Linked DNA regions of Homo sapiens. The protein of the gene in region 1 purifies or fractionates together with the protein of each later gene. This does not show direct contact. Each region holds a gene or a part of one and is shown in the gene's direction. Other genes may lie near its edges.

Region 1 (3,811 bases):
TAGTGCAATGGCATGATCTCGGTTCACCAAAACATCCGCCTCCTGGGTTCAAGCGATTCTCCTGCCTCAGCCTCCCGAGTAGCTGAGATTACAGACATGTGCCACCATGCCTGGCTAATTTTGTATTTTTAGTAGAGATGCGGTTTCTCCATCTTGGTCAGGCTGGTCTCGAACTCCTGACCTCAGGTTATCCGCCCACCTTGGCCTCCTAAAGTGCTGCGATTACAGGCATGAGCCACTGTGTCCGGCCAAGATGGGGTCTGATTATGTTGCCCAGGCTGGTCTTGAACTCCTGGGCTCAAGTGATCTTCCTGCCATAGCCTCCCGAAGTGCTGGGATTACAAGCATGAACCACTATGCCCAACCTGTATTTTTGTTTTTTGTTTTTGAGGTACTATATATGTAACACAAAATTCACCCACTTTAAGTGAACAATTCAGTGGCATTTAGTACATTCACAGAATTGTGCAACCATCACTGCTGTCCAGTTCCAAAACATCTTTGTCCCCGCAAAAGGTGACCCCATCTTCATTAGCACTAACCCCCTATTCTCCATTGCCCAGCCCCTGACAATCACCAATCTGCAGTCTGTCTCTATCCGTTTTCAAGTTTTATAGGTAGAATCATGCACTATGTGGCCTTTTGAGTCTGGCTTCTTTCACTCAGCATGATGCTTTGGGGGTCATGCATGTTGTAGCCTAAATCAGCACTTCATTCCTTTTTATGGCTGAGTAATATTCCACTGTGTGGATGCACCACATCATCCATTCATCTGTTGATGGACACTTAGATTGGTTCCACCTTTTGGCTATTATGAATCATGCTGCTATGAACATGAGTGTACACATTTTTGTCTAAACACTCATGTTCAGTCCTTTGGGGTACACATCTAGGAGCAGAATTGCTGGGGCGCATGCTTGTTGTATATTCTTGATCATGCTGGTCACCACCTAACGTTATTTGTTGTGTTTCTCTGGTGCCTTGAGGTTGGAAAGCCTGTCTCTCTTGTGCCCTCTTGTGTGCCTGGAACATGAATGACACAGAAGGAGGAAGTGTCCCAGAGACGTGGCTGAGAGGGAGGAAGGGAGGGATGGGGGTGTGCAAAAGCTTATTGCTCTCTGAGGCTTGCAGTCTGGCAGGTAGGAATTCCCTTCTATGGGATCAGGTCGATCTTTTGCCTTTCCAGTGAGGCTTGTGGGGCTGCTGGGGGGCAGTGGGGGCTGGCCTTAGTCTCTAGCTGCCTTTCTAGCCTGCCAGGCAACGCCCGCATCTGCCTTTTTGTCCCACGAAGGTTTTGTCTTTTGGCCAGGGGCGGGGGCAGTTCCTGTCTTCCCCCTGGCCCTTCCAGCGGTACCACAACTCAAGAAACTGTCCCCAGGAGGGACTGCGCTCCCCCACCCCCGACCGCCCCCAACGTTATATAACTTGTTTGTTCCAACTTCTGTCTTCTGCAACCGAGGGGGAAAAAAGAAAGAGAAAAGCTTATTCTCCTTCCTTCCTATCTCGAGGGATCAACAAAAAACCCGTTGCCTAGTAGAGGTGGTCATTAATGACTGAGCCGAACCTCAGGGATGGACAGAGTGGGGCTGCCCTGGCTGGGGTGTGCGGAGAGGAGGTGGGGTCCTTGCTGCAAGCACAAAGGACACTTGTTCACCAGCTGGCCTCCTCCCAGCTCGGGCCGCGGGGTCTAGACTCCTTGGAGGGAAAGGAGGCTTGGGCCACTTGGGGTGTCGCAAGGGGAGGCAAACCCTCTGGGGAGTCGCACCTCCCCAGCTAAAATTCTGTCACTGTGAGGTACCTGACCGGCAGAGTTTTGGAGGAACCTTCTGGCCTTGCAGCCTCTCCGACATGGGCCTTTGGCATCCACGCTTTTTGGCCCACGCTCCCTGGAGACGCCTGGGTAGGGCCCAGGCTCACTGAGTCATGCTGTTCCTGGGGGTGAGGTGGGGGGATCTGGGTGAGGGATGTGCCAGCTTCAGGCATTTGCATAAGAAGTGGTGGCTAGGCTGGGTGCTTTGGCTCACTCCTGTAATCCCAGCACTTTGGGAGCCCAAGGCAGGCAGATTACAAGGTCCAGAGTTTGAGACCAGCCTGGCCAACATAGTGAAACCCCCTCTCTACTAAAAATACAAAAATTAGTCAGGTGTGGTGGTGGGCGTCTTTAATCCCAGCAACTCTGGAGGTTGAGGCAGGAGAATCGCTTGAACCTGGGAGGAGGAGGTTGCAATGAGCCGAGATCCTGCCACTGCACTCCAGCCTGAGCGACAGAGTGAGACTCTGTATCAAAAAAAAAAAAAAAAGAAGTGATGGCTGGGACGTTGTGCCCAGGGGCTTTGCTGCCTGCTGAAAGTGTTTGCATGGAAAGTTGTGGCCGAGACGCTGCGCCCGGTGGGTTTGTCACAGTCAGTCTGGCTGGGTGGCCTTTGCCTGTTGAAGCTTTCTCCACAATCTAGATCATCTCCACCAAGCCCAGAGGCCTTGGAAGGGTCCAGCCCCCCAGCTCCTGCTAGGAAGACTTAGGGGAAGAGGTGGCTTCCCAAGGAGGTTCTTGCTACTTTGGGGAAGTTCTCATTCCTTTGGCCTCTTGCCCCTTTCTTTTTTATTATTATTAATTTTTTTTGACGTCACTCTGAGCTCAGGCTGGAGTGCAGTGGCATGATTTTGGCTCACTGCAACCTCCGCCTTCTGGGTTCAAGTGATTCTCCTGCCTCAGCCTCCCAAGTAGCTGGGACTACAGGCGCCCACTACCATGCCTGGCTAGTTTTTGTATTTTTAGGAGAGATGGGGTTTCATCATGTTGGCCAGGCTGGTCTCGAACTCCTGACCTCAGGTGATCCACCTGCCTTGGCCTCCCAAAGTGCTGGGATTACAGGCATGAGCCAGTGCGCCCGGCCTCATGCCCCTTTCAGAAGGAGGATTTTGACCCTTCCAAGACGTGGACTCAAGTCCTTCTCCTGGAAAATGTGGTCAGATATGGCGGCATGAGGTGTCTCATCATACCCATGGGTGACTGTGGCTCCCTCTTTATGGGTTGTGGCTGTGACAGATTCCTCATCTGGGAAATGGGGCTCCAGGCCCACCAGGTGGGGGGTGTCTGGGAGGAAACGAGTGGGGAGAGGTCACATGTACCTCATCAGTGTTACTGTGGCAGTGCTGACGCCCATGATGGGGACACTGCCATCCTTCTGCCCGCCATGCCCGCATGGGCCTTGAGGGGATCGTCAATGCCAGCAAGCCTTGATGTGGCGTGCGTGTGTCAGGCAGGGAAAGGAGAGGGTGAACTTGAGCCATTGGGAAGACAGTAGTGCCATGACTTGGGCCGTAAGAGGGACAGCAGCAGGGGCAGCGAGAGAGTAGAGCACGTCCAGCGTGAGCTGGAGAGGGCAGGTTCCGCCAGGAGTAGGCCTGGGAGCAGGAGCTCGGCAGGGCGGGGGCAGGGGCGGCGGGGGGTGGCGCGTCTCAGCAGGGATGGGGGCAGGTGGAACTGGGCCAGCCCAAGAAGGGCACTGGCCCACAGGCCGAGCCACATCCAGGCCACTCGATCTGCCCCTCACAGCTGAGCCCCTTCTCTGGGAAGGAGGCCACCCTCTCCTCCCCTCCTTGTCGGCAGGTCCCAAGAGCTCTGGGAGTGGAATTGCTCTGAAAGCACTCACTTCAACCTGAATCGTGCAGTGCGATCGTCACAGCTGGACTGTTTCCACCTGGTAGCTGTGACCCCCGGGACGGCCTCCTTGTCGTTGTCCGTAGTTACCGGGGAAGAAAGGCTTTATTACCCTCCGCCATAATCGCACCATCTCCAGGGAGCCCCTGC
Region 2 (3,811 bases), on another chromosome or scaffold:
GTCAGGCGTTCAAGAGCAGCCTGACCAACATGGCAAAACCTTGTCTCTACTAAAAATATAAAAATAAGCAGGGCGTGGTGGCGCATGCCTGTAATCCCAGCTACTTGGGAGGCTGAAGCAGGAGAATTGCTTGAACCTGGGAGGTCGAGGTTACAGTGAGCCGAGATTGCACCACTGCCCTCCAGCCTGGGCAACAAGAGTGAAACTCCATCTCAAAAACAAAGAAAGAAAGAAAGAAAGAAATGCAAAGGTGAATGAGACCCAGGTCGGAAATTTAACACCCAACAGAGGAAGCCTGACTGTTGTCAGGCATGAATTTGTGCTAGGAGCTATTAGATGCTAACACTAACTGGGGTTGATGTCCCTCTGAGACCCTGGTTCTGCCATCCTTAGAGCCAGTCCAGTGGCTGATCCTAGAGTCTGTGATTCAGCCCATGCTTTCCTCTGGTGTTTTGCAGATCCCCCTCCATCAGCTCCCCAGTGCTGGGCACAGATGGCATCAGGATCGTTCATGTTGCAGCTTACCTGTCGCTGGGATGGGGGATACCCTGACCCTGACTTCCTGTGGATAGAAGAGCCAGGAGGTGTAATCGTGGGGAAGTCAAAGCTGGGGGTGGAAATGCTGAGCGAGTCCCAGCTGTCGGATGGCAAGAAGTTCAAGTGTGTTACAAGCCACATAGTTGGGCCAGAGTCGGGCGCCAGCTGCATGGTGCAGATCAGTGAGTCTGTTTTGCTTTGTCTTGGGGTTGGAGTTTCCCTGCCTTCCTTTCTCCTAGGAGAAGCATTTGAGAGTTCTTCTGAGGAAGAAATCCCCGGATGTCAGGGTGGACTGAATTCCTTCCCTTTCTCCCTTTCTTTTTCTTTATGTTTCACTTTTTTCAAATTTTAGAGATGCTTAGCTCAAGCTTCTTCATTCTAGTCCCAGCTATTTTCCACTTGACAGATACTAATTGAACCCCTGCTATGTGCCAGGTACAGTTTCTACGTGCTGAGGATGGAGCAGTGAACAAGACATATGAGGTTCATCGTCTTTTGTGTCTGTCCATTTACTGTTGCTGTAAAGGAATACCTGAGGCTGGGTAGTTTATAAAGAAAATTTTTTTTTTTTTTTTTTTTTTTTTTTTTTTAGGCAGAGTCTTGCTCTGTTGCCCAGACTGGAGTGCAGTGGCATGATCTTGGCTCACTACAGCCTCTGCCTCCCAGGTTCAAGCAATTCTCCTGCCTTAGCCTCTTGAGTAGCTGGGACTACAGGCGTGCACCATCATGCCCAGCTAATTTTTGTATTTTTAGTAGAAATGGGGTTTCACCATGTTGGCCAGGCTGGTCTCGAACTGACCCCAAGTGATCTACCTGCCTCGGCCTCCTAAAGTGCTGGGATTATAGGTGTGAGCCACCGCACCTAGCTGAAAATTACTTTATTTGCTCATAGTTCCGTAGGCTGTGCAAGAAACATGGCACCAGCATCTGCTTGGCTTCTGGTGAGAGCGTCAGGCTGCTTCTGCTCATGACAGAAGGTAAAGGGGAGCCAGCTTATGCAGAGTTCCATAGTGAGAGAGGAAGCAAGAGAGAGAAGGGAGGTGCCAAACTCTTTTTAACAACCAGCAGTGGCTGGGCGTGGTAGCTCACACCTGTAATCTCAGCACTTTGGGAGGCTGAGGCAGGTGGATCACTTGAGGTCAGGAGTCTGAGACCAGCCTGGCCAACATGATGAAACCCCATCTCTACTAAAAATACAAAAATTAGTTGGGCGTGGTGGCGCATGCCTGTAGTCCCAGCTACTCGGGAGGCTGAGGCAGGAGAACTGCGTGAACCCAGGAGGCGGAGCTTCCAGTGAGCCGAGATCGCACCACTGCACTCCAGCCTGGGCGATGGAGTGAGACTCCATCTCAAAAAAAGAAAATAGTGACAAAAATTGTAATTACTTTTGCAGTAAGCTAATAGAATGAGAATTCACTTACCCAAACACCTTCCATTAGGCCTTACCTCCAACACTGAGGATCAAATTTAAACATGAGATTTGGAGGGGACAAACATTCAAACTATAGCTTCTAGTTATGTAACAAATTACTCTCAAACATAGTGGCTTAAAACAAGAATAACCATTTATTATCTGATGATTTCTGTGGGTCAGGAATTCAGAGAGGGCACAGTGGGCATTGGGGATGGTTTGTCTTGGCTCTGTATGTCTGGGGTGTCAGCCGGAAGAATTGAAGGTTGCGGGGCTGAAATCATCTGAAAGATCTACTTTTGAAGTCCTCACTCCCATGCCTGGCAACTATTTCTTCTCCATGTGGGATTCTCCATAAGGCTGCTTGAGTGTCCTTCCAACATGGCAGATGGCTTCCCTCAGAGCAAATGATCCAAAATGGAGTGAGTCAAGCTGATGCTATCCTTTCTATGACCTAGCCTCAGGAGTTACATGGGATCCCTTCTGCCACACTCTGTGTCTTAGAAATAAGTCCAGCCCACATTGAAGAGGGCTGGGAAGAATTAGGCACCACTTTTTGAAGGGAGGAGTGTCAGAGAATGTCTGTACATATTAAAACCACAAACATTCCTCTTTCACAGAGCTTATATTCTGGGTGGCATGGGGGTAGAAGGAAGACAGAAAGTACAAAAACAAGTAAGATAGGTCCAGATATGATGATAATATGAGGATAATAAAATGGTATATATAAAAGGGAGGCCTTTATAAGAAGAGGGGCACTTTTCCTAGGGTGGCAGGGAGGTCTCCGTGAGATGGTAATAATCTATCCTTAGAATGAGAAGGAGCTGGCTAGGTGAAGATCCGTGGGCTGAGTGTTCCTGGCAGAGGCAACAGCAAACGCAGAGGCCCTGAGGTGGAAACAAACTTGGCATTTGAGGACCCGAGAGAAGACCAGTGTGGCCGGGGCATCGTGTGTAAAGTACTGATAAAGCTGGGTGGAGGTTGGGGGTTCAGTTGTGTCCCCCCAGTAGATATGTTCAAGTCCAAACCCTAATACCTGTGGATATGACTTTATTCAGAAAGAGTCTTTGCAGATGGAATCAAGTTAAGATAAGGTCATAGTGGATTAGAGTAGGCTGTAATCCAATGACTGATGTCTTTCTTTGTAAGAAGGGAGAAGGCCGGGCGTGGTGGCTCACGCCTGTAATCCCAGCACTTTGGGAGTCAGAGGCAGGAGGATAGCTTACGGCTAGGAATTCGAGACCAGCCTGGGCAACACAGACCTTGTTTCTACAAACAATAAAAAATAAATAAAGTAGCTGGGCATGGTGGTATGCACCTATAATCCCAGCTACTGGGGAGGCTGATGTGAGAGTATTGCTTGTACCTAGGAGGTTGAGGCTGCAGTGAGCGGTCACTCCAGGCCTGGGTGTCAGAGTGAAACTCTGTCTCAAAACAAAAAAAAGGGAAAGGTAAGAGAGATCAGAAGCGCCAGGATCAGTCAGATGTGGTAGCTCATGACTGTAATCCCAGCACTTTGGGAGGCCAAGGACGGGCATATTGCTTGGGCCCAGGAGTTTGAGACCAGCCTGGGCAACACAGCGAAACACCATGATATGGTTTGGCTCTGTGTCCCCACCCAAATCTCATGTTGAATTGTAACTCCAAATATTGGCAGAGGGACCTGGTGGGAGGTAATTTGATCATGGGAATGTATTTCACACAAACACTAACACTAACGATAGGTGATGAGCCAAAAAAAAAAAAAAGGGACCGTGCATAATTTTCATGATATCCATCACACAGATAAACAAAAATGTCCTCACATTCAAAGCCATCCTGGGCCGAATTTAGCCCGCAGCTGCAGGTTGGAAAAGCTTGCTC

The links.
Region 2: the proteins of KLHL26 (region 1) and VSIG10 fractionate together in Homo sapiens (co-fractionation; one large-scale study listed by BioGRID). This does not show direct contact.

Annotation. Positions count from the first base shown.
Region 1 is NC_000019.10:18,643,528-18,647,338, forward strand, and holds part of KLHL26 (kelch-like protein 26), read left to right. Parts: intron 1-1,110; exon of another isoform or gene 1,111-1,139; intron 1,140-3,811. UniProt on the Homo sapiens protein: May play a role in endo(sarco)plasmic reticulum (ER/SR) mitochondrial signaling. May be part of the ubiquitin-proteasome system (UPS) and affect ubiquitination and degradation of target substrates in cardiomyocytes.
Region 2 is NC_000012.12:118,076,254-118,080,064, reverse strand, and holds part of VSIG10 (V-set and immunoglobulin domain-containing protein 10 precursor), read left to right. Parts: intron 1-458; coding exon 459-719; intron 720-2,084; exon of another isoform or gene 2,085-3,811.